4 separate regions of the Homo sapiens genome follow, and regions 2, 3 and 4 are each linked to region 1. The links come from fine-mapping of genetic effects on gene expression. A gene starts in region 1. Each other region holds a variant in brackets. All regions are shown on one strand. Distances are from middle to middle.

Evidence for each region. PIP is the estimated chance that this variant, and not a neighbour inherited with it, causes the effect. A credible set is the group of variants that fine-mapping cannot tell apart.
Region 2: its variant is the best candidate, but not a certain one, in a credible set for the expression of PROM1 in transverse colon (CEDAR, PIP 0.88).
Region 3: its variant is the best candidate, but not a certain one, in a credible set for the expression of PROM1 in thyroid (GTEx, PIP 0.82).
Region 4: its variant is the best candidate, but not a certain one, in a credible set for the expression of PROM1 in skeletal muscle (GTEx, PIP 0.83).

What each region holds. Positions count from the first base shown.
Region 1 is chr4:16,079,199-16,087,304 of GRCh38, reverse strand. It overlaps PROM1 (prominin 1), which reads left to right and starts at 3,282. Exons shown (of 28, transcript NM_006017.3): 1 at 3,282-3,327. RefSeq lists an enhancer at 8,007-8,096.
Region 2 is chr4:16,157,684-16,165,789 of GRCh38, reverse strand. It overlaps TAPT1 (transmembrane anterior posterior transformation 1), which reads left to right. Exons shown (of 14, transcript NM_153365.3): 14 at 2,253-5,285. The coding sequence ends at 2,482. Among named protein-coding and RNA genes, the nearest start is that of TAPT1, 65 kb to the left of the region's middle. The variant T/AT (reference allele first, on the strand shown) is at 3,086.
Region 3 is chr4:16,137,917-16,146,022 of GRCh38, reverse strand. No RefSeq gene overlaps it. Among named protein-coding and RNA genes, the nearest start is that of PROM1, 58 kb to the right of the region's middle. The variant C/T (reference allele first, on the strand shown) is at 4,815.
Region 4 is chr4:16,106,240-16,114,345 of GRCh38, reverse strand. LOC107986261 (a long non-coding RNA gene) reads left to right here. Exons shown (of 5, transcript XR_001741597.2): 5 at 1-470. Among named protein-coding and RNA genes, the nearest start is that of PROM1, 26 kb to the right of the region's middle. The variant T/C (reference allele first, on the strand shown) is at 3,592.

The sequences.
Region 1 (8,106 bases):
TCTTTAAAAGTGCACTATTTCTTCTCCTTAATCAATTCTGCTATTGAAAGACTCTGATGCATTCTTCAGTATGTCAGTTGCATTTTTAAACTTGAGAATTTCTGCTTGATTCTTTAAAATTATTTCAATATCTCTATTAAATTTATCTGATAGAATTCTGAATTCTTTTTCTGTGTTATCTTAATTTTCTCTGAGTTTCTTCAAGATATTGATTTTGAATTCTCTGTCTGAAACATCACATATCTCTATTTCTCCAGGGTTGTTCCCTGGGGACTTATTTAGTTTGTTTGGTGAGGTCATGTTTTCCTGGGTGGTCTGGAAGCTTTTGGATATTCATTGGTGTCTGGGCATTGAAGACCACCCCAAGAGCCTGCTTAGTACTCTACCTCCCTGTGGCTGAGCTGGTACCTAAGGGGAAGGAAAACATCCTCTTTACTTTTCCTTCTGCTTTTGTCAAGCAGAAGGAGTCTCTCACATTAGCCACCACAGTTGGGAATATACTGGGTCTCACCTGAAACCAGCAGATCTCAGAGTCACACCCAAGAACCACAGTGTACTACCTGAGTATTGCTTCTGGCTATTGAGAACCCAAGGGCTCTTTAGCCAACAGGTGATGGGTCCTGCCCAGACTGTTTCTTTCCCTTCAAGGCAGCAGTTTCCCTTCTGGCCCAGGATGTGTCTAGAAATGTTATCCACAAGTTAGGACCTGGGATGGGGGTCTGATGACTCAGACTGATGCCCTGTCCTACTGTGGCTAAACTGATATTCAAGATAACAAAGTCCTCTTTACTCTTCCCCCTCTTCTCTTCAAGCAGAAGGAATGGGTCTCTTCGTGCTGTTTTTAATCACTCCAGCCACTAGCATTGGGACTGATGCAGACACTAAGGATCCAAATGATTATTTTTGTTTTGTTTTTTTAACTGCATTGGGATTAGGCAACAGAAGGGTCTAATGTGGCTGAGAGTTTTTGAGAGAGGAGCATTTTTAGGAGGGTAGCTGCATTCCAAGTAGAGAGCTCTGCTGGGGTAAAAGAGGCATGAGTGCTAGAAAAGGGCATGCAGTGATGAAGAGCCACTAACAGCACTACCTGGGGTTGGGGTAGGGGTGTCACAAGCACTCCCTTAGCTCCCCTGTCTGGTGTCTCAGTAAGTCGCATGCCCTCCAAGTCTACTGGCTCTGAGCTCAGCATTTGGGCTTGCTTAGGAGTTGCTGTCCTTGTGGCCTAGGCTGCCTTTAAGGTTATTTGGGGCCCCAGAGCACTTTACTGAAACTCAAGTTTTCACCACTGGTATGGGCTATTTCCTCTGAGGGAAATTGGCTGAGTTCAGCCTAGTTTTGCTTTCTGCTATGACAGAGCAGTACTGAGTTCAATTCAAAGTCTCCCAATCACTGCACTCTCCCTTTCCCAAGCCACAAGGCTGCTGCTGCTGGGGGATGGAGGACTGGCGGCATTGGCAAATCAAAACTGTCTTTCCTGGCTTCTTCAGTGCCTCTTTCAGTAATATGAAATTAAAACCAGGTATTGTGGTTACTCACCTGATTTTTGGTTCTTATAAAGGTGCTTTTTGTGTGTGTAGATAGCAGTTAAATTGTGTTCCTAGCCGGGGTGGGGGGTGGGTGGTCAAACCTTCTATTTGACCATCTTGCTTCACCCCTTTCTACTGATACTATTGTTGTTGATATTATTAGGAATGAAAATGAGCCCTGTGAGTTATAATTGTCTTCATTTTGCAGACCAGGAAACTGAGGCTCAGAGAAATATTAAGCAGCCAAAGTCACAGCGATTAAAAGAGGCGGGACCAAACTTTGACGGAGATCAGGACCCACTCCTTTGAGAAATCACCTCTTTTGCTAGCTCCAGCCTAAAAGTGCTATCTAGGAGAAGGTTTATGGGACCCCAGCAGATGTTCAACCAGAAACTTCTGACCTGCAGGGGCTGCAGAGGGGAAATCTGCCCTGATTAGAAGAGATTTGTTTTCCACCCATATTAGTTTGATCTCACATTGCTATAAAGAACTACCTGAGACTGGGTTTCAGAGGCTGTACCGTAGGCATGGCCAGAGAGGCTTCAGGAAACTTACAATTATGGTGGAAGAAGGGAAAGCAAGCACATCTTCACATGGCAGAAGGAGAGACAGAGCGAGCAAAGGGGAAGTGCCACACACTTTTAAATCATCAGATATCCTGAGAACTCACTCACTATCATGAGAACAGCAAGGGAGAAATCCGCCCTCATAATCCAATCACCTCCCACTAGGTCCCTCTCCCAGTGAATTATAATTCAATATGAGATTTGGATGGGGACACAGAGCCAAACCATCTAACCTTGCCATGTCCTACTGTACTTTTTGGAAGTTTTCTGAACTAACATTTCTTGTCTAGAAATATACACACTCAAGATCAATCTAACTATTAAAAACAAAAAATGCTTATTTTCCAGTACCTGTTTTATGTTAGATTCTGGGGTAAAAAGAAAAAGGTACTGACTTAATGTTCCTGTCTATCATTCATTTGTAGCTTGTGCATCCATCCTTTCATCTGTCTATCCATATCACAAACATGTATTAAACACCTGCTGTATGCTAGACACCATCCTGAAGGTGCATTTCTTCCCTAAGTCTTTTTTTTGCCTGCCGGAGAGTACAGTATTCTCAATTCAAGATAAGAAGTGGTGAATAAGAGTGAAGTGCAAATTGGTGAGGACACTTAGACACCGAGTGATTACTTCTGACAGGTTTCCACCACTCAGCTAAGTAGCAAGGTGAAGACTCCGAGGTTGAGTTGTAACTCACAGAGCGGGAAGACCAATAGGCAGTGAGAAAAGAAGTTGCAGTGGCTTCACGTTATAGCAGATGCCTGTGTGTACACATGGGAGCGAATATGGCTTTATGCTGTTTTTCAACCGCTTCAGCCACTAGCATTGGTACTGCTGCACACTAAGGATCCAAATGATTGTTTTTTTGTTTTTTGTTTTGTTTTGTTTTGTTTTGTTTTGTTTTAAATTGCATTGGGATTAGGCAACAGAAGGGTCTAATGCGGCCGGGATGAGACAGGAGAGTTTTTAGGAGGGTAGCTGCATTCTAAGTAAGGGACTCTGCGGGGGGAAAAGAGGCGCAAGCGTTGCAAGAAGGGAGTGCAGGGGGTTGAGCAGGCACCTCTACAGGAAATGGATGCTGTCCAGGTGCTGGTGGGCGCCCCAGGGCTACGTGGCGAAGCAGCTCAGCCGGTCCAATCAGAGTGCGTCCAGGGCTCGGGTTTCGCGATCTTTAAGTGACTGAGGCAGATCCCCACGCGGCACCTGGCCATGCTCTCAGCTCTCCCGCCGCGGTGAGTATGTTTAAGGAATCCTTTCCATTACGGCGGCCCCATACCTAGGTCCCCGTCCGGGACAGAGGAAGCCGCAACGGGTCCCCCCGGGCACCCGGGCCTTTCTCCTGCCTCCCGCCACGTCCGAGGGTCCGGCCGCAGCGCCGCCTGAGCCCCTCCGCGGCCGGCAGTGGGAGGCGGGCTCTCCGAAAGCCGTCGCGGTGGTCCCAGAAGCCGGGTCATAAATAATTCACGAGCCAGGGTCTGGCGAGCTAAGGGAAGGGCGGCGGCAGCGGTGACTAGGGCGGGAGCAGGAGCGGGAGCCGGGTGCACGGTGAGTAGCTGGGTCCTCATCCCGGAGCGAGAGAGGCATCTGCTGACCAGGCGCGGGGCTGAGCGCACTCCTTCCACTGTACTGGGGGTGTACAGTGAGGAGTGGACGGGTTCGCTCTGCGCCCCCCTTACCCTAGCCATCTGCGCCGCCTCCCTGGCCCCTCAGCAGGTGGTGCGGGCCCGGACAGCGGCTGGGGGCCAGAGGAACTGCGGGGAGAGCGTGGTGGTGCCGGTGCCCGTCCAACCCAAACTTTTTAGTCTGAGTGGTGGCCCGCGACGCCCCGCTTGGGTCTTCTTTCCATCCACTGGGGATGGGGGCGGGGGTGGGGGTAGCCGGCGGCCGTGGTTCCGGAGCGGGAGTCGGAGGTGAGTGTGCGAACTGGACCGGGGCCCCAGAGACTTCGGACTCGCTCTCGGGGAGAACGGTGACCGAGGTGAGACTCGCCAGGGTCTTGGGAACGAGTCTGCGGTAAAGGAAACTCTAGGGATGGCCCCGGGGACGTGAGGCGCTGAGCTTCCCTGGCTGAGTGCGGAAATGGGCCAACACTGTGCAGCCGACCACAGCGGGAGTAGGGATATGGGGGTACAAAGCGAGGCCATCTCCCCGCGTCCGTGGGAGAAAGCATGCACCCCTGGCTTGAAGCACCTTCCCAGCCTCTCGCTCCACGGCCCTTCTGCTTGCATGCGCGGGGACCCGCGGCTATCGCTAGATGGAGAACTGGGGTGCTCAAGGCGCACCCTGCCAGAACACGCCGACCGGACAACAAAGAGGAGCGTGGACAGACCAGGAGCTTCACGGCTGTAGAAAGTCAGAGGCTCGGGATCAGTTTCCCCGAAAGCCCGTGTCTGGAGGGGCAGGGAGTCGGATCGGAGGGAGGAACTAGCTCCAGAACCCCTTCTCTCTGGCAAGATCGCCCCCGATCGGTGCCCAACAGGGGCCGCGGCGGGGAACTGGCGCCGACGCGCTCAGAGCAGCCAAGTTACTCCGGCAACCCCCTCCCCTGCGCGGCTGCGAATTCCTGGAGTCTCTTGGCTTCCCGCGCCCGCCCCGCCGCTCATTCTTTTGTGTCCCGCAGCTCGCGAGAGGCTTCCGCCCAGAAGGGAGCTAGGCCTGGAGGGGGCTTGGCCTGGAGGTGGTTTGGAGGTAAAGGGCGGGGAAGCCGGCGCCCCAGGCTTCATTCTGCAACAGGTTGCTCCTGGAGCCCGCTAAGGCGACTGACCTTTCTGGAGAAAGGTTTGCTGGAGTTCCTGAGGGCGGCAGCTGTTCTTTGTTAAGAAAGCAAGTGCACGATCGTAGTTCTTGAGTGCCCCCCGAGACTCATGCGACACGAACAACCGCTGCGATATGTTGGGTTGAATCATAAGAAATTGTCGGTTTTTTGGATGGAAGATGTGAATATCGTCAACCTCATATGATTCAACTTGTGTGATGTTACTCATTTTTCTTTTCTCACCGTCCTTTCTGTCCCGGTTATCCTAGGAGCCCCGGTGGAGTTGAGCTCAGAGTATTGATGCTAGCAGAAGCAGACAGACCCCAGATAGCCTTCCAGCTGCGTGCCAGGTGCTTTACCTATTAGATCGCTAGCCTGCGAACCCTATGCGAAATCCTCCTTTGACAGAGGAGCAGAAGAAGGGTTGGAGAATTCAAACAACTGTCATCTTGGCAGAGTTAGTAAGGGGGACCAGAGCCCCCTTACTGTTGCTGTTGTCTGTCTATTCAGCAGTGCCCTTTAGTTTATTCTTGTTTTTTTTTTCATGTGTTCCATAATTTTTTTCTAAACTTCCTTCTGATTTCTAAACTTTTCTAAACTTCTTTCTGATTTCTAAACTTCCTTCTGATTTTTATACGAGACAGTTTCTTTGTGTTTTAGTACAATGAGGTGAACAAATGCATCAGAGGACAAGCTGAAAACTTTAAACCAAGTTGGTACTGTTTAAAATATAAAGGAAATAGGTTTTTCAGGGAGCAAAGAGCTATTTCTGAGATTTGTTAAGGGTCAAGATACTTTGTTAAAACAGTGGAAGCTGAGTCGGGGGTAATTTTTATCAGATAAAGGACTTCTTGGATTCTGTAAGTTGCCTGTTCACTCTGATGGTAGTTTCTTTTGCTCTGCAGAAGCTCTTTAGTTTAATTAGATCCCATTTGTCAATTTTGGCTTTTGTTGCCATTGCTTTTGGTGTTTTAGACATGAAGTCCTTGCCCATGCCTATGTCCTGAATGGTATTGCCTAGGTTTTCTTCTAGGGTTTTTATGGTTTTAGGTCTAACATTTAAGTTTTTAATCCATCTTGAATTAATTTTTGTATAAGGTGTAAGGAAGGGATCCAGTTTCAGCTTTCTACATATGGCTAGCCAGGTTTCCCAGCACCGTTTGTTGGGAATTGAACAATGAAAACACTTGGACACAGGAAGGGGAACATCACACACCGGGGCCTGTTGTCAGGTGGCGGGAGTGGGGAGGGATAGCATTAGGACATATACCTAATGTAAATGACGAGTTAATAGGTGCAGCACACCGACATGGCACATGTATACACATGTAACAAACATGCACATTGTGCACATGTACCCTAGAACTTAAAGTATAATAAAAAAATATATATACATATACATATATATATGTATATGTATATATATAAAAGGACTTCTTGAAAGGATGGTCCCTGGGTGGCTTAGGTAAGTGGCAGCAAGGCTGGCTAGCCAGGCTTAGGAATCTAGGACATGCCACAGGACCCCTGATGGGTGGGTGGCTGCGGCTGCCAGAACAGGACCCTGGATGTGGCTACTGGCATTGCTGCCATCATTGCTGGAATGAATTAGATACTGTCCTGCTTCAGAGTGCGCAGGCCCAGGCCCAGAAGAAAGCTTCTGATTGGCCCAGCATGGCTCAGCTCCACCAGGACACAGTTTGGGCGCCTCAGCTGACCTCACAATGCAAGGCAGGGCTGCCTCCCACCCAGCTCACAAACGTGGTCTCAGATGTTGGGTATCCCCCATGCCCCCGCCAAAAGCACTCCAGATGACAAAAATCCACTACAAAGCTCTTCTTTAAAAAGAAAGATTCTGAGAAGTTCCATCAAAAGAAGAAAAGAAGAAATGAAGGTGATTGATCACCATATTTGCTTTTTCATTTTTAATTTTTTTTTTTGAGATGGAGTCTCTGTCACCCAGGCTGGAGTGCAGTGGCATGATCTCAGGTCACTGCAACCTCCGCCTCCCGGGTTCAAGTGATTCTCCTGCCTCAGCCTCCCGAGTAGCTGGGACTACAGGTGTGCACCACCACACCTGGCTAATTTTTTTTGTATTTTTAGTAGAGACAGGGTTTCACCATGTTAGCCAGGATGGTCTCGATCTCCTGACCTCGTGATCCGCCCGCCTCGGCCTCCCAAAATGCTGGGATTACAGGCTTGAGCCACCACGCCCGGGCCATATTTGCTTTTAAACCAGTATTGAAATGCAGTTCTCTGGACTCCAGGCTCAAAATCATGTAAGGTCGCCCAGGCTGGAGTGCAGTGGTATGATTATGGCTCACTACAGGCTCAGCTTCCTGGACTCAAGTAATCCTCCTGCTTCAGACTTCCGAGTAGCTGGGACTACAGTTGTGCACCACTACGTTTGCTAATTTAAATTTTTTTTTTTTTTTTTTTTTTTTTTGTAGAGACAGGGCCTCTCTATGTTGCCCAGGCTGGTAGCAATTCTTCATTGAGTACCAACTGTGTTCCAGGCTCTGGGGATACAGAAATAAGCCAGGGACCTGCACAGCAGCTGGGGTAGATCAATTCAAAGCAATATGAAAAGGGCATTTGGGGAGCTTTCACCTTACATGTGTTATTTTCCAATGTGTTTGGGAAGCCTGAAGTGTCCTTGGAAAGTGACATGAATTGACTAGGCGGGTACTCCAGGATCAGAGTACTCCAGGAACAGAACTGTTCTCAAACTTTGTTTGAAGGATCAGTCCCCAGGAAAGCTTGTTAAAAATGCAGATTAATGGGTTTCATCCCAGAAATTAGGTCCATTAATAGTCTGCATTTCAACTAAACACCCCATTTTATCCCGAGACAGATGCTACTCTCAGTGGCTCTCGGACCTAGTGGGGTTTAGCTGGTAAATACTCAGAGCTTCTGTTTTTGGCACAACCTATTAAACCCGAGATAAAAAACTCTTCCTCTTTGACTTGACTTTAATCAGTTTCTAGTATTTCATAGTTAGTGAGATATTAATACTTTCTTAAAATGTACTTTAAAACTTCAGAGGGACCTACATTTTGGAGCAAGATGTAAAGAAATCTGGAAGTGCAACTGCAGTTGCTGTCTATCTCAAGTCATTGTCTCCCATCTTTGCTGCGGTGAGCAGTTATGTTTCACTTCACTGGGAATTTCCCTTCCCCTGCTTTGTCACTGAGGGAGTTGGAGAGCCTGTTTGTTCATAGTTCTTCCCTTGGCAGTTTCTCTCTGTCCTGGGCTGAGG
Region 2 (8,106 bases), 78 kb before region 1:
GACCTGGGAGGTTTGCGTGAAGTATTTGCTGGTGAGGAAGTTATGCAGTGTGAGAAGAATAGGTGAGTTCAGGATGATTCCAGGGTTTCTGGGTTGGAAGATTTGGAGGAAGAACTGGGACGTTGACTTAATTTTTGTTGTTAGGTGGCAGTTCCCTGTTCACAGAGGTATTTGTTCATATAACTTTTAGTTTAAATGATGTATTTTTTTTTTTTTTTTTGAGACGGAGTTTTGCTCCGTCGCCCAGGCTGGAGTGCAGTGGCGTGATCTCGGCTCACTGCAAGCTTCGCCTCCCAGGTTCACGGCATTCTCCTGCCTCGGCCTCTCGAGTAGCTGGGACTACAGGCGCCCACCACCACGCCCAGCTAATTTTTTGTATTTTTAGTAGAGACGGGGTTTCACCATGTTAGCCAGGATGGTCTCGATCTCCTGACCTCGTGATCCGCCTGCCTCGGCCTCCCAAAGTGCTGGGATTACAGGCATGAGCCACCATGCCTGGCCTAAATGATGTGTTTTTAAATGTGTGGAATAACTGTGTGCAAGGTCATAGAGGAGATGCTGAAGAGAGAAAAATAAAGGATGTCCTTCAAGGCCTCATGTAACTACAGGGGTCCAAATAGGTGAGCAGAGGGTTTGGAGGGACAGGAGAGGGGGGTTCTTCTAAACTAAAAGCTTGAAGGATGAAACTGGCCCAGGGCAGACTGGTGGAAAGGGCACTCCAGAAGGGCCAGCATGAGTTAGATCATGGAGACCTGGAAAAGCGTCTGGAGAACTAGCAGCTCAATATGGCAAGTGTGGAGTGTGCTTCAGAAAGAGGGAGGAGAGGAGAGTTGGGCTGGACTGGAGTCCTACCTGAAAGTGGGTCTGTGCTCATCATCTGTACTTAACCGGAAGCGAAAATAAAGTAAAATAACAATGTGTATAATCACTGGGAAATTATTTTTTTCATTATAAGAACACTATTAGTAATAAGGATTGCATTTTTTTCAACCAACTAGGTAATTCATAGTGGGGCCTGTACGTGTTCTCTTGTTACGCATATTAGTTAAGAAGTTAGGCTAGGCATAGTGGCACATGCCTTTAATAATCCCAGCACTTTGGGAGGCTAAGGCAGAAGCAGCGCTTGAGCCCAGGAGTTCGAGACCAGCCTGGGCAACCTAGTGAGTCCCATCTCTACAAAAAATATAAAAACAAAAAGTTAGTAAGCGTCACTCTTGCTTTCAAGGAGGATCCAGTCTAATGGGGATAAAAGCTTTAAGCACGTACTGCAGGGCAGGGCCATTGACTCAGGGGTCATGTTATGAGAAGTACATTCAGGATGACGACCTGAGTGTTTGCTCAGAATGTCTTGGAGGTCAGGAGAACACAGACTGGAGAACATGCAGGAGGGTGTTGAAGTCAAGCTAAAGAGAGGGAGGGGGCTGTCTCTCAAAGCTGCATCAGATTCATCACGTTGTAAAAGAGACAAAAGACAGCGGTTCTGGGGGTGAGGGCAGGAGAGAGGGATTACTACAAGAGAGCTGGATGTGTCATTACCTCCATCATGGCAGTAGTGTGACCAGGTGTATGCACATGTCAGAACTCATCAGATTATACATTTTAAATGTGTACAGCTGATGGTGTGTCTTTTTTGCCTCAAAGAAGCTGTTCTTACATGGATTGAATGTATGATTCAGATGAGTCTCTCCAGGCCCCAGCCCAGCTGTCCCCAAAGCCAGGCTCCAGGATCTCTGTGGCCTAAAATGAACATTGGGGGTTTTGTTTATTTGTTTGTTTGTTTTTAACCTCTGGTTTGGACTTCCCAGAGATGATGATGCTAAACCATCTGTAGCTGAAGTGACTACAGATGACAGGTGGAATGTAGTAAAGTCTTCTTGGCCCACTCCCTGATGTTCTGTATTGGAGCAAGTGTTAATGTTTCAGGACTGCCAACAGTCATGTTAGGTCTTGATTATATAGAGAGGAGCCGTAATGTAGGAGTTGTGATCTTTCTGCAGTTGGGTGATGGCATTGTTTGTGTGATACGAGCAATGTAATGTACCCTTCCATAAAGTTGAACAAACAGATGATTAGCCTCTAAGTTTTATTATAAATGATGGCTGCTTATACAACATGCTATTTGGTTATCATTTGCTTTATCGGAAAGCATGGATAATGGGCACTTTTTTCAGCACCACTGTATTGGTAAGTTTGTATTTATTAATAATTGGAGAAAAGTCTTTCTCTAATTTAATGGATCTATTTTATCACAGGCCTTTCCACAGAAGAAAACCTGTCTGCCTCCATCACCAAACAACCTATTCATCAAAAGGAAAATATCATACCATTACTTGTGACAAGCAATTCTGATCAGTTTTTGACAACTCCAGATGGTGACGAGAAGGACATAACGCAGGACAATTCTGAATTAAAACACAGATCCTCAAAGAAAGATTTGTTAGAGATAGACAGGTTCACAATTTGTGGAAACCGAATTGACTGAATCTGTGGCTTCATGCGCTGAAGAAGCTGGGTCCTGGGGCAACAAGTGCTGTGTTGCCAGGACAAATAGATGCTAAACATGGCACTTAAATATTTATTTAAAAACTTAAATTATTATTGGCAAGCAAATCTTAGTATCTTTCTTCCAGTAATATGGCCTGGCTGAGGGTCAGACCACAGGACAGGAGCGACCTCCGGCCTTGACTGTCTGGGAAGCTTGATGGATTATAAAACTTCCTCCTGCCTGGCCAAGCAGCAGCATCATTTCCAGGACCCAACAAAGGCAACATCAAAATCTGTTTTGCTTTGTCAGTCTGGGCTTCCAGAATGTTGAATTTGCCTCAAGGCCTCTTCAGTATAAGGAAATACCTGGAAAACTGTGAAACTTTTACCACGACGTAATCTTTCCAGTCTCATACTATTTTCACAAACAGTTTTCAAACGTTACTTCATCTGCCAAAGCATTAAAAAAATTAAACATAAGTCAAGATAAATGTTCTTACCACCAGAATAACCCTTAAAGATGTATCTTAATTAATCAGAATAAAAGGCTACCTTAAATAAGACATGATGAATAGTAGCATTTTGTAGGGTTAAAAAAAAA[T/AT]GCTAAACTAGTTTATTTATTAAAAAAATAATTAATGAAGGCTATGCATTACTGGGAAAAATCCTTCATAATTTTTCAGTTTACTCTTTAAAGCAAAATGTGAGCTGTATGTCATTTAATTGGTGGATAAAACAAATTTCCTTACAAAAGGGCACTTTTTACACCAAGGAAGCAGAGCAGTGTTAACTTTAAGGTATACTTAACTGATTTTGCTTTAAAACTAATTACTTCATAAATTATTACAGCTAAAAGGATTCGATGTTGAACAGGCTGAAAAATTGTCAATGTACAAAATTCAAAACTGTCAACTTTAACTGTAAAGTAAATGCTCCAAGTGTGTTAGACAGCATCATCTTGCTTGGGCTTACCAAATGCATTAGTCTTTGTGTTTGGGTCGACAGCGAGTGTGCCTGTGCTGGGGCAGGGTGTGTGTTCTGTGGGAGGGTGTCTGTGGGGATGTGACTATCAGGGTGGGCCTGTGCTGGGGATGGGGCAGGCCTGGGTCTGGAGAGGATTTTGTGTGAAAGTAAATGGGGTGTTTGAGGCGTATGGGTGGCTGTTGGTGTGGGGAGGCATCTGTGTATGGCTGTTGGGAACAGCAACCAAAAGGTGCTTTTTGGTTTTATTTGAGATGAAGATTGTGTTTCCGCTTAATTACTAGTTTGTGGTCTATATCATAGAAGTTATTTCCCACCCCATTTTATCTTGACAACCGTGTTTGCATTTCTGTAAAACTTCTACAACTTCTGGTGTCAGAACTGTCCAGAAGATGGTACTGTTAACTGTTATTTCCTTTGATGTTTTGATTTTGAAGTTTAGCTCTCATGCAAATGTTTCAGGCGTACATACATAGGCAGAAAGCAATTTTTAGGTGATTTGTCTGTTTCTTGGATGAAATATAAAGCAAGCTTTAATGTTCTGACTTGTTCATTTGAAATACAAAAAAGTAAGTGAATTTTAATGTTTTGCATTAACTAAAGAAATCTGAAGATTAATGTTGAGGAAATTGTATGGACATGCCTTTGTGAAACCAGGAAGTATTTTAAGTTAAAAATGAAAAAGGTTTTAATTGCTTTGTGTGTGTTTTAATGGAGCCCCATTTTAGAATTATTTTTTCCATCTCCCTTTACCAACAAAAGGAACAATGCCACCGTGAATGGAATAGTTTGGGGAAAGCTTTGCCAAACACAACCCTGATTTCAGAGCAGGAACATGGTTTGGATAGATCTTCAGTTCCGCTTGAATTATTCTGTTACTGCGCTGTCATTTTCAGAAGATTTCCATTCCTTTGCAGATGCTGTTGGGAGTTCGGGATTATGTTCATTTCTTCTGTTTTAATGGCATTCAGTACTAATTTTATAAGTGCATCTTGTGTGAATCTCAATAAATTCAGTTTTGTAATCTTTTTTAAAAAGGTCACTGAATTTATTTTAATATTTACTATTGTATTTGGTAGAGTGAATTTCCCACTGTATAATAAGTATTTATTTGTAATTCACAAGTGATAGAGCTATCTTAATTTGAATTATTGCTTTGGTCTTAATGGTGGCAAAATGTTTAATTTTGTCTTTGGAAAAAATAGGCTCGGCCTTGATTATAGACCATTTAATATTTCTCAGCAAATGAAGGTATTTGCATTTTACAAGTGTTTTGAATGTCACACAAAATATTTTTCACATCTGGGAGTCAAGTTCAAGACAGTGCTTTGGTTTTAAAAAAATCTAATGAAGGCACAGGATAGGCCAGACCCTTATTAGGTTTTCCTTTAGAATAAGTGTAAAGACCAAGTGTCACTGATACGCTTGTCCAGATTTTCTTGTGGACTTTGGCCAGTATTTAGAGTTTATATTCATGTTACATAAAGTGAAAGAAACTTGCTATAATTAGGCCATCAAAATATATCCTGCCACTCCTGGTAACTCAGCAGAGGAGGAGATAAATTTACAAAATAATGTAATATCTCTACATTGTTACATGTTTTCAACTATTTTTTATCAACAAAGATTTGTTAATCACTTCCTATGTGTCAGAAACTGTTCTAAGTGGTGGGATCAGCAATGAGCAAGATAAGTCCCTGTTCGTCTGTGGAAGACTGATAGGAACAAGTCGATGAAATAATGTCTGCTGGTCACAGAGTGTCCACTGACCAAATGATCTCTCAGGCTTATTTCAGCTCTAAAATATAGTTCTTTAAAACGTTTGTGTAAGTCTGATTTTTTTCCTATTGGATTAGCTTGAAATAAGATAATTGTATAGCAATTTTACAGTGCTTCTATAAAATAGAAATAAGAAAAGACTTTCTCCCTGAAGACTGCTAGTTGTCCAGCAGAATCCATTCTCCTGTTCCATTGTGTAGAGTTGTAGCTGGGCATGTGCTGCTTGCTGGGGACTGCATTTCTCAGCCCCTCTTGCTGTTACCTGTAGCCAGCTGACTCATTCTCCCAGGGGATGTAAGTTGAAGGGTGTATTCCGCTATTGGGCCAGGACCCTTAAGACCATGGGTGAGTCCCCCTCACCTCCTCTGTCCCCTTCCCACAGGTGGAACCCAGAGAAGGTAGTGACCTTGTCCCAGTAGGTGCCCATCATGGCAGAGCCATGAGAGAGAAGGAACCTGGGTCCCTGAATGCCGCTGTGGAGCAGAGTTGCTGGTCAGCTTGGAAAATTCCGCTTGACTATACATAAGAGAGAAACTTTTGAAATGCCATTGTTTCTAAGCCACTGAACCTGGAGGTTCTGTGTTCTGTTCATGAAGTTTAGCCCACATTAGTACATTAGGAAATCTGAGAGGGACTATTTAGAGATCTTTACATAAAAGGAGCAAGGAGTTAGACCTATCTTGCTAAAACACATTCTTCTGAAAATTCTCTCTGGATACTCATTATTTATTATTTATATGGAAAAAGATAAAGATTACTCCACCCCACTTTTTCAGAGGTCAGACTCTCAGCACCCTTGGCTGTCTTGAACTGAACATTAAACTTGCCCATAAGTGGCAAAGTTCTATTTGTCCATATACTCTATCAAATAGACATTTCTTGCCCTTTATCTCAGAAAAGTGTGTATAGTAAAAGAGTAAAGTGTAAGTAGAGCTTAACAGCAAGGAGAAGTAGAAGCAAGAGGAGTTAATCAAGAGAGCAGTAAAAATATACCTGACGTCAGTGATGCCATGCCTGTGATTGCCAATAAACTGTGTTACAGGTCAATGTGATGTGTGGTATGCAGTAAGTGAGATCTAGGATGATTTAGATTGTGTTCATTACATACTATTAAGGATTGTGTTTGATACAAATTAAGGTTCGTACAATTGAGGGGAAGTTGTTCAGAAAAAAATGGCGTTCTCAGGGACCTTGAGTTATCTGAAAAGTTTGCTTATAGGGAGGAACTATTGCTTAGCAGTGCTGAGCAAACAAGGCATTGCTGTTCTAAATTTTATTAAGAGAGTAAATGTATCAGCAAGTTGGCAAAAGGCACAGTTATGCATAGTGTAGTAAAGTTGTATTTGAGGTTTTTGATATTTAATGACAAGGTAGGTATCAATACAATATGTTTTGCTTATTTATATGTTTTGTTTCTTGGGTTTTCTTGTTTGTTTTTTGTTTTTGGCTTATAAGGAAACCAAGGGAGGTCTTGAAGGCCCCTTTGGCCTCTTTTTAGAGGTATTAGCTCAGGGACTACAGAATGAATGAGCTCTTGCAGTGTGAATAATCTTCGAAGTGGATGGTTAATTTTGAAACTGCAATTATTTTCAATAAGCACATTCTCATTCCATTTTTAATATGTCAACATAAGAATGTAAATACTGGGAAGATTAGAAATCGCCATAATGTCAGGTTTAACCAGATAAGTGAAATGTATAACAAGGAAAAGGCATAAAAAGCTTGTTGGACTTACTTTCACAGATATTAATTGCACTCACTGAGCAGAGCACAGAAATGAAGGAGCTGTGCTTTCTGCCCATGGGGCTTAACTGTAATCTGACAGTGAAAAGTCCAAGATTCTTAGCAAGGCACTAAAGACTGGGGGGCTGACCCGGCAATTACAGCCCTGTGTGATGAGTACCACCATAAACCACGCCTCTGGCTGCAGCAAAACATTCAACCACATTCACTGCTGTAGCCCTTGCACCTCGTTCCTGGCACACACAGGCAGGCAATAAACATTTATTGGATGAAGAAAACATAGGGGCCATTGCAGAAGGTGTGCACTTGGGCCGCCTTGAAACAAGTAGGAATTAGATGGATAAGAAGGGAGAGGAAGGGCAAGGCACGAATGAACAAAAGAGGAAAGAGCACAGCGGAAGCTGCAGCGCAGGTTTCCTTCACTCCCCATTAAGTGCCAGCTGTCTTGCTGGGAAGATGAGGAGGGAAGCTTCCGTCCCATCCCTGGGGAAACGAGATGGAGGATGGAGGCAGGGGCTAGATCTCAAGAGCGCTCTTAATGCCTTGCTAAGAATCTTAGACGGTTAATCCTATAGACAAAGGGTGGAGGAGCTTAAGTGGAATTTTAAGTTGTTGTAATTATCAAATGAGAAATGAAAAAAAAAACTACTTGGTAAACTCTGAAGTGCTATGAACAGATCAATGTTTTAGAAAAGTCAGGGTGGTGTCCTTGTAAAGGATTATTGTGTAATCGCTTTTGTGTTCGTGTGAAAGCAGGGCTAAGCTCATTTTCTACATTCTTCTCATTGAACCTTTATGTCTCTCTAAAGCAGACACTTACCCCATTTTATAAGTAGAAAACTGTGGCTTAGAAAGGTTAAGTAACTTGTTCAGGGTCACACAAGGAGCAAGGAGCACAGCAGAAAGTTAAACCGCCTTCCTGAACTGGAAAACTGGAGCTCTCAAGCTCTCTGCCTTCTGCTATTTACGGAGAAGGGAGAAGCCAGATAAGGAAACCCCTTGAGGGAAGTGCCTGCAGCCACTCACAGCAGAGTGCGAGGACTTCAGGGATGTAGGGTGTACTGAGCTCTGGGATATTTACCCCTCTAAGATACTCTGGAGGGCTAGCCTGCCGTGTGATGT
Region 3 (8,106 bases), 59 kb before region 1:
TATGCATTTATCTCAGTGAACAGAGGGATGATTTTGAATGGAATGGGAGGCAGGTTGGCCCTAAGCAGTTCCCAGTTTGACTTTTCCCTTTAGCTTAGTGATTTTGGGGCCCCAAGATTTATTTTCCTTTCACCCTAGCAAAGGAGAAACAGGCGAAAAACTATAATAGGAAACTATATTTTTAAGTCTTTACAAAGAGCCAAGAACATTGGTTGAACTGTTGAGTGATTATCATATTTGTGTGTGTGGTCAGACTCCCACGTGTTTTTTTTTCATTATGCGATTTTTAAAAACTAGGCTTTTGTGTTTTTTTATTGTTATATCATAGTTGTACATATTTGGTAGGTACATGTTATTGGGGGAACCTGCCCCCCAATATTTCAATGTAGGTTCTTTCTATTTTCCGTAAGTGTCGGCCAGCTGAGCAATAAAGAGAAAGAGTACAAAGAGAGGAATTTTACAGCTGGGCCACTGGGGGTGACATCACATATCAGTAGGACCGTCATGCCCACCTGAGCCTCAAATCAGCAAGTTTTTTATTAAGGGTTCCAAAAGGTGAGGGGGTGTGAGAACAGGGAGTAGATCACATGCTTCAAAGGGCAAAAAGCAGAACTACTAATAAGGGTCCAACAAAGATCACAAGGCAAAGGGCAAAAGTAGAACCACTGATAAGGGTCTATGTTCAGCGGCGCACGTATTGTCTTGATAAACATCTTAAACAACAGAAAACAGGGTTCGAGAGCAGAGAACTGGTCTGACCACGAATTTACCAGGGCAGAGTTTTTTCCCCACCCTAGTAAGCCTGAGGGTACTGCAGGAGACCAGGGCGTATCTCAGTCCTTATCTCAACCGCATAAGACAGACACTCCCAGAGCGGCCGTTTATAGACCTCCCCCCAGGAACACATTCCTTTCCCAGGGTATTAGTATTAGTATTCCTTGCTAGGAAAAGAATTCAGCGATATCTCTCCCACTTGCATGTCTGTTTATAGGCTCTCTGCAAGAAGAAAAATAAGGCTCTTTTTGCCCGCCCCCGCTGGCAGTCAGACCTTATGGTTGTCTTCCCTTGTTCCCTAAAAATCACTGTTATTCTGTTTTTGTTCAAGGTGCACTGATTTCATATTGTTCAAACACACATGTTTTACAATCAATTTGTAGAGTTAACACAATTATCACAGTGGTCCTGAGGTGATGTACGTCCTCAGCTTACGAAGATAACAGGATTAAGAGATTAAAGTAAAGACAGGCATAAGAAATTATAAAAGTATTATTTGGGAACTGATAAATGCCCATGAAATCTTCAAAATTTATGTTCCTCTGCTGCGGCTCCAGCCGGTCCCTCCATTCGGGGTCCCTGACTTCCCGCAACACGTGTGATATTTTGACACATGTGTAAAAGGCTTAATGATCAAATCAGAGCAATTGGTATATCCATCACCTCAAACATTTATCTTTTATTTGTATTGGGAACATTACAATTCTTCCAGCTGTATTGAAATGTACAATAAATTATCGTTAGCTATAATTTCCCTACTATACTATAAAATCATAGGATTTATTCCTTCTACCTAACTGTATTTTTGCATGCATTTATTTTTTTAAACCAGTTTTAGGTTCACATAAAAATTGAGTGTAATGTACTGAGTTCCCATATGTTCTCCACCCACCACACTCACAGCCACCCCCACTATCAACGTCCCCCACCAGGGTGGTGCATTTGTTAGAACTGATGACAATTCTACATTGACGCATCATTATCATCCAAAGTTCATAGTTTTCGTTAGGGTTCACTCTTGGTGCTGTACATTCTTTGAGCTTTGACAAATGAGTAATGACATGGATCCACCATCATAGTATCATATGGAATAGTTTCACTGCACTAAATATCCTCTGTGCTCTGCCTCTTCATCCTTCCTTCCCCACAATCCCTAGCAACAACTGAACTTTTTACTGTCTCTATAATTTTACCTTTTTCAGAATGTCATATACAGCATTTGGAATTATACAGTGTGTAGCTTTTCACACTGGATCCTTTCACATAGAAATACGCATTTAAGCTTCCTTCACATCTTTTCATGGCTTGGCAGCTCATTTAAGCATTGAATAATATTTCGTATTCTGGATGTCCCACAGTGTATTTACTCATTCATCTGTTGAAGGACATCTTGGTGCTTTTAAATCTTGGCGATTATGAATAAAGCTGCTAAAAATGTCCACATGCAAGTTTTTATAATTTTTATAGCATCTTTATTGACATGTAATTCATATATCATAAAATTCACCCATTTAAAGTGTACAAGTCAATAATTTCTAGTATATTCACAGAGTTGTACAACCATCACCATGATCAATGTTAGAACACTTTTGTAACCCTCCAAAGAAACCCTATACTCACTAGTAGCCACCCACCCACCCCAGCCTTAGGAAATCACTAACCTACTGTCTATCTATAGATTTATGAACTCTGGACATTTCATGAAAGTGGAATCATACAACAGGTGGTCTTTTGTGACTGGCTGCTTTTACTTAGCATAACATTTTTAAGGTTTATCCATGTCACAGCACATATCAGCACTTCATTCCTTTGTATTGCTGAATAACATTTATTGTATAGATACACCATATTTTCTTTACCTACACATTAATTAGTAGACATTTAGATTGCTTCCACCTTTAGATGCTGTTGTGAACATTCATGTACACACTGTTCTGTAGACCTATAATTTCATTTCTCTTGGGCATATCCCCAGGAGTGGAATTGCTGAGTCACATGGTAACTCTGTCTAACTTTCTAAGGACCTGCCAATCTGTTTTGTAAAGTAGCTGTACCAGAAGCCAGCAGACTATGAGGGTTCCAATATCTCCCACCCTTACCAACCCTGCTATTATCTGTCTTTTTTATGACAGCCATCCTAGTGGGTGTGGTGGCTTGTTTTCATACAAGGTCCATTTCTCTGTTTTACAATGATGTGTATTACTTTAGTAATCGTGAGGGGTGTGTTATTAAAACAAACCATAAAAGTCACAAAGTCCTCTGCTGGGATTTCCATTAGCAAAAGTGCACAGAAATGCAGTTCCAGTTTGGGAAGTTGGGTGGGCATCTGTGGGAGAACAGGGACATGGGGGGAAGTCTTTGCAGCCTGCCTCTATTGCTGTTCTCTGAGGCTCTGACCTCACTCCACCGTTTCCCCAACCACACCTGGCTGCCCTCTATGGGCATGGCGATGGCAGCCTCCTCCACAGCTCATTCTTCATGTGCAGTTCTTTCTCCAGGCTGTGTAGTGTGGTTGGAAGCCTCCTGGCCTGCAGAGTTAGGTAGACCTGGGTGTGAACCCTGCTGTGGGACCTCTGCTAGTGCATAACCTCTTGAGCTTTGCCATCCTCTATAAAACTGAGACACATCTCAGCCTCATGGCGTTGCCGATGGCTAAATGCAAAACAGCTGTCCAGGGTGCTCACAAGAGTTGTGTCCTCTGCCCCCCTTTTCTGCACTTCTGCTCTGTGCATGTGGGGATTGGCCCTCTCTGCCTGCATTTCAGGTTTACTTTCTGGTTTGGGTCTCACTTCACTCTGCTCCTTGGCTAGTGGGCAACAGAAAGCACTACACGATTAGAAGACCTCTAAGGGTATTACAGGAAGATGCTGGAAAGAGCACTGAGCTTTGTTAGGTCCTCTTATAGGCAATGTCAGCCCCCAGCAAGGACCAAACCTTTATCAAAAGGTAAGGTTCAGAACTACGCACCTCAAATATGCTCCAGGTCACCAGTTTAACTTAGTGCATCCAGTATTGCTGGAGTGTACGTGTGATTAGTACTGTGCTCCCGGAGAGTCTCAAACTCCAGATGTCTCAGAGATAGTCAAATGACAGGGGACTTTTTTTTCTTTTTAAGTGCAAACCTAATAATGTGATCATTGTCTGTGTAGCCCAAGTTACAGAACTGAAAGCAATGCTAAGAATTGTAGCAGTCGCTATTAATTGAGGATTTAATGCCTTTAACTCTACTAGTGGTTTACAGACACTATCTTAATCCTCTGGCACTCATGAGCTTCCTTGTAGCCCCATTTCCTTGCCTTCTCAAATGTTGCAGAAGCAATTCCTTGCCCAGTTTGTGTTTTTATTCTGTATTTTTGATGCTTTGACATCTTGGGGCTTTGCTGACCCTGGAGGGACCACCCCTTACTGGACTAGCGAATTCCTAGGAATAGCAAATGTCTGGTGTGTGAGCCAATGTGCCTTTCATATGCAAACCAACCAATCCAGAGCCATACCCCAACCACCTCCTATATCTGTTCTCATACTCCAGGCCACTATCTGCCTGCTCTAATCACCCCAGGGCTGGACAACCGGGGTCAGCCCTAGGGAAAGACAATTAGGGACACACAACCAGGGGCAGCCCCTGTGCCCAAGAGCCTGCTAAGATTATTCAAATTAGACAATCCTAAAGCTGCTGACACTACCTCACCTGTTCCTCCCTGTGGAAACCTCAGTAAAGGACTAACATGGGTGCTTCTCCATGTGGCCCTGCACGCCCTGCTTCTAGGGACCTGTGAGTAGCAAACTTCTTCATGACAGTCACTTTCATGTCTCACCATAACAGCTTAAAACAAATTTGGGATGCCTTTTAAACACTCCTAGAGACCCAGTCTAGAGCCACCCAACTTCCTGACAGCTTTCAGATGATTTCTGGAAGCACCTAATTAACTGTATTAATTCTCTGTATACCTAAAACCCACTAGGGGACTTTCTGTTTCCTGCCATTAACTCTGATGATAGAGTAACTTACTCTGGACTGTGGAGCTGACCATGGACAAAGA[C/T]ACACACTGTTCACCTTGAGCAACCAAGCCCTCTACCAGGAAGCTCTACTCTATTTACACTGGTATTTGGATCCTAATCTACAGTCCCAAAGGCTTGCCTCTCTGAAAGCATTTCCCCAACCACAGAATGTTGCTCTGTCCATTATATGGCCTTTGTTGGCCAGCTTCCAGGTAAAGCTGTTGCCTGAGTAAGTGTTTTGAAATTCCTTGAGGTCTGGATCATTTCCCTGTAGTGACCTGGGCTCCAGGTTTGGTTTCAGTCCCTGGGGGACAAGAATCCAAGACTTCAGTGAAGCTGAACTGAGCCTTCTTTCCATTTATGGAGAAGCCCAGGAGATGCCAGGGAATCTGAGAAAACTTTCTTCTGCCTCCAACATTTTCAGAATAGTGCTTTGGCTCTCCTTGAGGCTTAGAGGAAAGTTTTGGGCCAGAGCCCATCAGATATTCCTACCTATATGTTTCCTGTGGACTCTTTGGGGAAACTTCTCACAGTCTAGGTAGATCCTATAGCATGTTCTAGTAGTAAAAAGATTGAAGTCCAATTTAAGCCACTCAGATCTTCTGTTTCGCTTTTTTTTTTTTTTTTTTCCATCTCACGTCCCATTCAAAGCAGTTGCCTTTTCCCCAGCTTAGGCAAGGACAGCCCCAGGAATAGGACCCGGTGTGTCCCTCATATGCCCTGTTGCACCTGGAGCTGGGGGAAGGGGTGGGTGGCGGAGGGGAGATGTGAACTCAAGGCTGCCTCACCTGACTCTTGGAGTATCTGGCCATGGGTCTTCTATGTGGCAGATGCCCAAAGGTTGGCCCTTATATTAGTTTGCTAGGGTTGCCATAGCAGCATATCTCAAACTGGGTGTCCTACATCAACAGAAATTTATTCTCTCACAGTTCTGAAAGCTAGAAGTCCAAAATCAAGGTGTTGGCAGGACCAGCCTCCCTCTGAAACCCCTGGGGCAGGGTCATATTTTGCCTTTTCCAGCTTCTGGCAGCCCCCGAAGCACTATCCTTAGATAGTGATACCATGACTCCAATCTTTGCATCTATTCAAATGGTGCTCTCTTCTCTGTGTCTGTTTCCAAATTTCCCTTTTCTGATAAGTACAACAGTCATATTGGATTAAGGGCCCCCCCTGGTCCACTACAACCTCATTCTAACTGATTACATCAGCCCCAACCCCATTCCCAAATAAGGTCACCTTCACAGGTTCTAGGGGTGAGGAATTCATTCAACACATCTTTTTGAGGGACACAGTTCAACCCATAACAGCCCTCTTTCTTTTCTCTCTTCCAAGAGGTACCTTTTGTGGGTTCTTCAGAGATATCCACTAGCCTCACTTCCACCCCTGCCCCCACCTGGGGCCTGCTGGCATGATAGATGCACCCTCTGTTCTGACCTCTCCCAGCTCCTTCTCATCTCTTCATCTCCCGCCCCAGGGGCCCGCCCTGGAGTTCTGCCAGGCAGCCTGCTTGGGCAGGGTTGTTTCCAGGGTGGCTCTAGTCCGGCCCCTTCCTTGGTGTTCCCTCTGCCCAGCCAGTCTCTGGGGGTGCAGGCTGCTCCCCAGGCTGCCTGACCATCCTCCTCATGCATCCTGGACATCTTCAGGAAAAAAGCTGACTCTAGTGTGTGACCTCCAAAGTTCAGGAGGCCAAGGTGTCACCCAGCATTGTCACTGCACTCTGCTCTGGCCTTGTAGTGGCCCTGGGTGCACAGTTTAGCAGCTTAGGAGACATTCAGCACGTAGTCAGAAACCAGACTGGCCCATGGACACCCCTTCCCCTCCCCAGAGATTCTCCTGCCCCTTCCCCTCATTTAGGATGAGGAGCCCTGGCTTTTCTCTTTCCTCTCAGAAAAGAAGGAGAAACAAGTTAGGCACAATGGTGTGGGTCTGTAGCCCCAGCTCCTCAAGAGGCTGAGCTGCGAGGATCCCTCGGGCCCAGGAGCTCAAGGCTGCAGTGAGCTATGATTGTGCCACTGCATTCCAGCCTGGGTGACACAGCGAGACTCTGCCTCTAAAAATAATAAAAAGGAGGACAAACACTGTCACAAGCTCCACATCTGTGCATTTGCTTTAAGGGATAGCTTTCTCTGATCAATCTTCTCTGAATTTCTTATCTCTTGTGTAGGTTGGAAGTGAGCGGTGAGCAAGGGTCACAGGTTTTTGCAGATTTGGGCATTTCTGTGGTCATGTGTCTAACGCCTCCTTTTAAAATGTGTGAGAACCCATTGACTTCACTTCTGGGGACTCAGGAAATCTCAATGGAGAAGTTCCATTCAGCATCCTGGTTGGTGGATGAGGTGCCTCGTTCATAGAAAACCCTTGGTAAATGGCAGTCTTGAAAGTCCAGGTTCCAATGACTGCAGTTCCAAAGTGCTGCCATTTCCTTTCATGCATGCTACTAGCAGATATTAGGATTTTTCACCTTTAAGATGATGCAAAAGCCATATGCATTTAGTAGAAACAGTACTTCAAGTACCCATACAACCATTCTGTTTTCACTTTCAGTTATAGCATTCAATACATTACATAAGATATTTAGCACTTGATTACCAAATAGGCTTAGATGATTTGCCCCCCGTGGGCTAATGTAAGTGTTCTGAGCGTGGGTAGGCGAGGCTAAGCTATGGTATCTGGTGGGTTATGTGTAGTAAATGCATTTTCAGCTTACAGCCACAAGGACTGCAGGAAATGTCGTGCCCCTCCAATGCAAGCGCAACGAAAGACAAGCTACCAAGTTTCTGCTCTTTCCTCGGTACTATACTGTTGTCTCCCAGGTCCCTGAACTTGGATAGGTGGAAACTGGCGCATGTGCAAGTGAGCTGAGCCATCCGAAACCCCTTCCAAGAGAGCTTTTGTGACCATTTCATCTAAAAGAGAACCCACTCCATGCCCAGTCTTGCTTTGCCCTTTGTAACTGTTCTTCTGAGTAGTTATCATTACCTGAAACTACATTAAATTATACAGATGCCCACAGTTACATCTCCATAAACCCATCATAAGTTAAAAATATTGTAAACTGAAAATGCATTTAATACACCTAACCCACCAAATATCATAGCTTAGCCTAGCCTATGTTAAATATGCTCAGAACACTTACACTAGCCTACAGTTAGGCAAATCATCTAACACAAAGCTTATTTAGTAATCCAGTGCTAAATATCTTATGTAATGTATTGAGTGCTGTACTGAAAGTGAATACAGAATGGTTGTATGCGTACTTGAAGTACTGTTTCTACTAAATGCATATTGCTTTTGGATCCTCTTATGGGTAAAAAATTCTAAATTGAACCATCA
Region 4 (8,106 bases), 27 kb before region 1:
CCAGAACAGAAAGGTCAAAGAGGAGGCAAAAACATGATTGTAGTGGCTATTTCAGCACAGCAACAGTTCCTTCTCAAATGTCTCCTCTCTATTATAAAAAGAAACTTTGCATCTGAGCCTGATATTTATTTATGCGAATTATTTTGTGGGATGAATGGAAGTCTCCAGAACTTTCACGGAAAGTTCCGCTTCCTGGACAACTGTAAATAGCTCTGCCCTGACAAACTTTGACCAAGTGCAAATTAAGGAACACTCAAAAGGAGCACAAGCAGAGATGAGGACACTCTCAGAACTCCTGAAAGGAGAGGCAGAAGCTCAGAGAGGTTAATCAGCTTATCTGAAGTCACACATCTGGTAGGTGGTAGAGGTGGAACCAGACCCAGCCCTCTGCATCCCTGGCTGGTATTTTTCCTTCTGAAACACAAGAGTGCATCAGGGCAATGTTGCTTCTGCACAGAAAACTGTGGTGCCTACACTGGAGCAAAAGGTGCTCCAAGAACACCACATGAGTGATGACCCGCCCCAAGAGTAGTGCGTGGCAGGGAGTTGGCACCCTCAGATAGGGGTAACTGATCGACTAACCCCACCTTCTTATCACTATGATCTAGGAATAGGGCACTTTTCAGACTTTTTCATTCTCTGCCTTGTTGGGGTAAATTTATGGAATACATTAGACAATTTCCCACCAGTCAAGTGAAAATATGTTTGATGACTTAAAAAATAATCAATGGGCTGGGTGCAGTGGCTCATGCCTGTACTCCCAGCACTTTGGCAGGCCAAGGTGGGAAGATCACTTGAGGTCAGGAGTTCAAGACCAGCTTGGGCAACATAATAAACCCCCCCATCTTTACAAAATTTTAAAAAATTTGCTGGATGTGGTGGTGCATTCCTGTAGTCCCAGTTACTTGAGAGGCTGAGGAGGGAAGACCACTTGAGCCCAAGGGCTTGAGGCTGCAGTGAGCTATGATTATACCACTGCACACTGGCCTAGGTGACAGTGCAGGACCCTGTTTCTTAAAATAATAATAATAATAATCAGTGCTTGATCAATAATGATCCAGTGCTAGACCAAGGGAGACAGACTTATTCTCATTCTGCCATTTCCTTACCTCTAGAACCTCACCTTTCTCATCTGGCAAATGGGACGATGCCTCCATCATTGTGTGGTTCATGAGGGTTAGATGAAATACTACACAGTATATGACACAGAGTCAGTCAGTATTTCTTAAATGAAAGAACGGGCAAATGAATGAGAGGGAGGAAATCATTTGTTCTGCCCTGGATGTGAAATCTGTCCTGTTTCCTCCCAGCCTCACTGTCTCTATCAGCTGTGCAGTAACTGGAACTGGACCATTCTGAATGAAGAATCTGTGGTTGAGGGGAGAGTGTGAGTCTACACACACTATGTGATAAAGGTAGACATGAACATCAAATGTAGAAACCCCCATAGAATCCATTGTCTTCCACTCAATGGAAGTGAGCTCAGGCTCAGTTGAACCCAGAGGAGGAGGGAGAGCATGCTGGGCAGGTTTAAATCCTATACCTGTTCCTTTCCTCCCTCCCTCCCTCCCTCCCCTCCCTTCTTCCCTCCCTCCCCTCCCTTCTTCCCTCCCTCCCCTCCCTTCTTCCCTCCCTCCCCTCCCCTCCCTCCTCCCCTCCCTCCTCCCCTCTCCTCCACCCTCCCCTCCACCCTCCCCTCCCCTCCCTCCCTCCCTCCCTCCCTCCCTTCCTTCCTTCCTTCCTTCTTCCCCATTTTCCTGCTTGAAAGATGGGGAGGGAAGAAAGAGGAAATGTGCATACTCTGGGAAGAGGGTCAGTTTTGAGTCAGAGACCTGGGATTTAATCACTTGTTCCCCACTGACTGACACGGTGACAGTAGAAAAGACACCAGCCATCATGGGGCAGACACTCAATAAATACTTGTTGGAAATAATACATGTTAGTTGCTGGGCAAAGCTCTGTGTGTATTAACTCATTTGATCCTCACAGTGTTATGCTGTATTAGGTGCTAGCCATAATATACAGATGATGGCACGGAAATACAGAGAAGTCAGATAACTCATCAAGGGGACATAGACCGTAAATCACAGCCAATATACCTCCAGAACACACGCTTTTAACTCCTCTGATATAAAACACTCCATGCACACAACTTCCTGGAATCTCCTTTTTCTCATGTGCAGGTGGCTGGTAGGATGGGGCGATGCTTGAGCCTAAGTCATTTCCAGTGCTAGGATTGGGGCTAAGGAGAGAGAAAAGTTCCCCCAAATCTCTGAATACCTCAAAGGCTCATGTCTGACATAGGAAAACGAGGAATACCTCAAAGGCTCATGTCTGACACAGGAAAATGAGGAAGAGGCAGAGATTGCATACCCAGGGTGGACAGTGGGGAAAGCAGATGGGAGCAGAGACTCCAGAGAGTGACATGGAGGTGCAGCTTCTAAGAGGCCCCCAATCTACTGAGCACCAGCTCTGTCCTTTCCATAAAATCCTTACAATGACCATGTAAAATAGGTGCTGTTATTCCCACTTTGTCAATGATGAAATTGGAATTCTGAATGATGAAAAAACATGTCCAAGATCGCACAAGATACTGCGGACATAGGCTTCAACTTACGTCTGTTTGGCCCCAAAGTCCATGTTCTTCCTCCTATGCATACTCCACATTTTTGTCTAGAGCTGACCCTGAGTATAACATACTTGTCATGTCACGAAAACATCTAGGACATGCTGTTGCAGAGCAATGCCTTCTACAGTGCACAGTTACAGTCGTGTGCCACATAACAATATTTTAGTCAACAATGGACCACATATACACACCTTGGTCATCCCATAAGATTATAATACCATATTTTTACCGTACCTTTTCTATGTTTAGATACACAAATACTTACCCATGTGTTACAGTGGCCTACAGTATTCAGTACGGTGACATGCGGTCCAAGTTCGTAGTCTAGGAACAATAGCCTGTACCATATACATAGGTGTGTAGTAAGCTAGACCATCTACGTTTGAGTAAGTGCACTCTGTGATGTTTGCACAACAAAATAGCCTTCAATGCATTTCTCAGAACATATCCCCATCATTTAGCAACACATGACTGTACTTAAAATGTCTTTGAAACACCACCATCAAAGTCATTGCCAACATGGGCTGCTCTGAGTGGCATCTAGAAAGCTGGAGCAGAATGGAAGCTGACTCAAGAAGGAAGGTGGCTGGGAAGCTTAATATAAGCTCCTATAAACCTCTTAATGCTTTCAAGACATTAACACTGAGTGACACCCTGGGGTTTCCTGGCTTTAATTTAAGACTCAGGATGGATTGGCTAACGAAGCTGCTGAGCAGCATGACAGTGTCTATTAGCAAGGAATTTAATGGTCCTTTCATAAATTAAAATATTAAGCTCCCTACAAATCACAAACTTACTCCAATATAGTGCTGACCCTGGGGAAAAAAAATGAATCACAGACCACTGGACCATGAGAAGAATCTCAGAGATTCTGCCCTTGGATGAGGAAGCTGAGGCCTGGAAGTATTAGGTAGTTCCCCAAGTCTGTGTATCTCTGGTCAAGGGCCGAGTCAGGCCTAGAA[T/C]CTCCAGCCCCTGACCCCAGTTAGCACCCAGCATTGGCCCATGGGTCAGGAACAAAAGAGATTTCCACTTCGATTAAAATCTGGACATGGGCAGATAGTTCTGAGCACTTTTTGAAATGATTTGTTTGGTTTATTTGTTTCCAGATTTTTTTATCCATCTCCCAAACTAGACAGTAAACTTTTCCCTCCACTATCTTGGTCTTGCTGTGTCCTGAACACTTGGCTTGATGCCTACACACATAGAAGGTGTTCAATAATATTTGTAGAAGAAAGGGAAGGAGGAAAGAGGGGCAGAAATATCTGTTAGCACCTACAATATACTTCACACTACAGTCACATTTCATTTTCTTTGTGTGTTAATGTATGTCTCACTTTTATTTCCCTCCTTTCCTTTCCCTTCCTTTCTTCCTTCCTCCCTCCCTCCCTCCCTCCTTCCTCCTTCCTCCTCCTTCCTCCTCCTTCCTCCTTCCTCCTCCTTCCTCCTTCCCCCTCCTTCCTCCTTCCCCCTCCTTCCTCCTTCCCCCTCCTTCCTCCTTCCTCCTCCTTCCTCCTTCCTCCTCCTTCCTCCTTCCTCCTTCTTCCTCCTTCCTCCTTCCTCCTCCTTCCTTCCTTCCTTCCTTGACAGAGTCTGGCTCTGTCACCCAGGCTGGAGTGCAGTGGTACAATCATGGCTCACTGCAGCCTTGACCTCCTGGGCTCAGGTGATCCTCTCACATCAGGCTTTTGAGTAACTGGGACTTGAGGAGTGCATCACTATGCCCAGCTAATTTTTGTATTTTTGGTAGAGTCAGGGTTTTGGCATGTTGCCCAGGCTGGTTTTGAACTCCTGAACTCAAGCAACCCGCCTTCTTCAGCCTCCCAAAGTGCTAGGATTACAGGCGTGAGCCATCAAGCCCAGCCTATACCTCACTTCTTTCTAAAATACAGCTATAGTCCCCATTTCCGATGAGGAAACTTAGGTGCAGAGAGGTAAAGTGATGGGTTTAAAGTGACTACTCAACTAACATGTAGCAGAGCCAGATTTGAATCCAGGTTTAGATGCTTATCCCATATTCTTTTCACTACACAACCTGCTTACTGAGAATAGGCACTCACCCATTCAATGCATATTTATTGTGCTCCAACTCTGTGCCAGGCACACTTCTAGGCTCCTGGGATATTTTAGTGAACAAAACAGATCAAGACGCCTGCCCTTGCAGAATTTACATTTCATGGGAATCTAAAATTTCAGTGATGTGGATCAGAGGAAAGGGGAACGGCCCAAAATGAAACACCCAAGAGATGGACCTTTCGGGGCCATCACGTTGGGCTGAGCTTCCTACCATGTCTGTCTCAGGCTTCATGGAAGCTTCCCTCTGGCAGACAACATTTAGGGCATTGGGGAAACACACAGTCTTCACCCGCGCTGGGCCTGGCTCTTGGAAACCTAGTGGGGAGAGCAACTTAAAGCTGACATGTCTCTGGAAGAAGTGGACATTTGGATATATTCAGATTGTCCCATTGTTTTTCTGAAAATCTTGCCCACCCCAGTGAGCCTCCAGCTATGCAAATGAACACTAGAGGTCTTCTGAGGTGGAAGCATTTGAGACCATGGCTCCAAGAAGCAAACATGCTCTGAACACTGTTGGGAAAGTCTAGCTCTCAGTTGGATGGAGACGAAAACTCGGGCATGGGTCCTGGAAGACAATGGGGGAGACGGGGCAGAGGCTTTGCCCCGCCACTCCCATGGGAGATGCGAATATTAGCATCCTTCTCATCTGAGGGGTAAGATCTTGAAGCTAATGAAACACTTCCTGGGACTCTTAGGAATTTCTAGGAACGTGCATAGCCATTTTGAAGTCCGAATTATAGCCCCGCTTGGGGGAGAAGGCCATTCTCCCAAGATCTATGCAGCAGTCCCTGGAGCTCCAAGTTTTGAGGGCTCTGGAAGAATCTGGAGATAGCGGTGGCAGGGAAGTTGGTGTCTCAGGATGGGCTCGGTCAGCAGGGGCAGTGGAAGGGCCTCATCAGGTGGCTTTGTTGGCCATGACCATCAGAGCTAGAGCCTAAGAACATGTCAGGCCCTGAGTGGTGGGGGACCCCCAGAAATGCTGCATAGGTGCTGTAAGAGGCACTTGATTTCCTGCTGAGGCAAGAGGAGGGCAGGGCATGGAGTCTTTCTAGCTGGGATGTAAGTGTAAAGGAGACCTTATTTTGTAGACCCAGGGTGTTGAGGCCAGTGGACAGTTGCTACATATAATAGTTGCACTTTGCTTGCCAGCAACTAGGGGGAAAGAAGCAGCACAAGAAGAGGTTAAACCTAATGGATTATTCCAAAATGCCAAGCCCATGAACCAGCCCTGAGTACCCACCTGGGTGACTCCTGTCAGGCTCCTCTCTCCCCACACCTTTCTCCTCCCCAACCCTCCTTCTGGGGTAATCTTCTTACAGCTAATGTCAATCATTTCTTCCTCTACAATCCTCAATGTCTCCCCATTGCCTTCAGATGGTCCCAATTCCTCAGCATGGCATGTGAGCGCCTCCACATCCCAAGCCCCTCCAACTTACTGCTCTAGATTCCTCTATCATTATTCATTTTTTACCAACATTATGTCCCAGCCCACACGATCCAGCCCCACCATACCACTGACTGAATCTGGACACGCCTGTGTGTGCTAACTCCTCTGCCCAGGGCACCTCTCCTCTTAGCCTTGTTCTTCATCGGACACACTTTTCATTCTAATGAGTTAGCTGGAGCATCATAGCCCTGGGAAACATTTTCTGGAAGGTTTCATACGGGGTTGAACTGAGACTTCCTGCCTTATGGGCATGCTTATCTTGTACTCTCCCTTTATTGGTGCATGTAGAATTCAAAGTGGCATTGATTTGTTCCCCCCCACTAGACAAATGACATTCTTGAAGGCCTGACTTGGTGTTAATTACCTCTGCATCCTTACAGCCTAGTACAGTTGGATGCAAAGCAATGCTCTGAAGAGTTTGTTTAGTGAAGGAAGGAAAGCGTGTGGATGAGCTATGGTCTTGATCAGTATTGCATAGTCACTCAAGGGCCAGCACAAAATTTAAGGGCGTTCCCAAATAGCTCATTAATTATAGTAAATAATACTTAATGCAATATTTTAAAAATCCATATTTATGCCTCAAGCTCCATGATACACATGCCTCGAATTTAACATACAGACAGGATCTGAACCTGTACTTGCATGGCAAATCACTTGCCTCCCCTTAATCCCAGTGAGTGAGCAATGAGCTGCGACTTTGAGGGACTTTACACAGTACATGGAATATGATGAGTCCACACAGTACACGAGTGGCTGAGTTAGCACTGCCACCATGAGACTGTAGAGGAGGGGATGGATTACAAAAGGAAGATGAGGGCAATGTTGAAGGTGGTGTGTTAATCAATCAGGGATCACCAGCAGCCAACTCTGGCTAATCATACTCAGAAGAGGAATATATCCAAAGGGTATTGGATGGCTCCTGGCCCTGTCAGGAGGCTGCAGTTCGGAATCAGCACTCCAGGTCAGGTACAGCCTGATCAGGACACCACTGCTGGCACCTGGCACCACCCACACCACCACCCCTGCCGCTACTCTGATGTCTGATTGGCCTCATGTCCTGCATCACACACTCCAGGGACAAAGTCCCGGGCAGAAGTGGCCAACGAGCCAGGCCTTGAAAGGGTCATGCTTGGGTGTGTGACAGGTGCATGGAACGACGATTGTTAGGTTTTTGTGGTGAAAAGTGAGTAGCTGTGTCCCACTGCTACTCTACACAAATGGGGGGTCCCCAGCAAGAAAAGGGGTTGCATGGTTGGATCCACATGACGAATACCATAGATGAGGCTGAATTTTCCTCTTGGGAGACTGAAGTTATTAATTAAAATAGAGAACTCTGGAGAAGGAACAAACTTGTATTTTTTTTAAATGGCAGAAGGAAAATACTAAATTGGTTTCACTTTTAGGAATGTATTTGGCCCCATCTAGGATGCATTTGGACTGTGTTTTATTGTGAGGACAAGCTGTGGGGAGACTGAGGCCCTTTTGTACTTCCCTGCACAATTTTACCAAAGAGCTGCCTCTCTCAGGGGTGGGATTGGGGTGGAGTCAGAGCTGCGCTATGATCCGTGCCTCTAGCATCTTTATGATATTACATTATCTGGTTTATCTAACCAGTCATAGACCTGTAGGATGGCAGGGAGCAAGGATCCTTCTAAGGAAGGATCCTTGTGCTGCCCTAAATACAATCAGAGGTTGAATGGTCAGGAGGAGAGCACCAACTCTTACTGGAACCCTCTGCTGTGCAGGTGCCATGCATGCCTTGTCTCATGTAAGACTCATGACACCCACCCAGCAGTGCTACCATTATTAGTTCTACTTTACAGTTGAGGAAATGGAGGCTCGTAGAAGGTTAAGTATAAGAAGTTCAAGATGACATATGGAGTTAGATGTGTCAGAATCAGATTTGAACCCAAGTTGGTCTACCCCAGAGACCCTGTTGCTGCCTGGCCAATAAAAG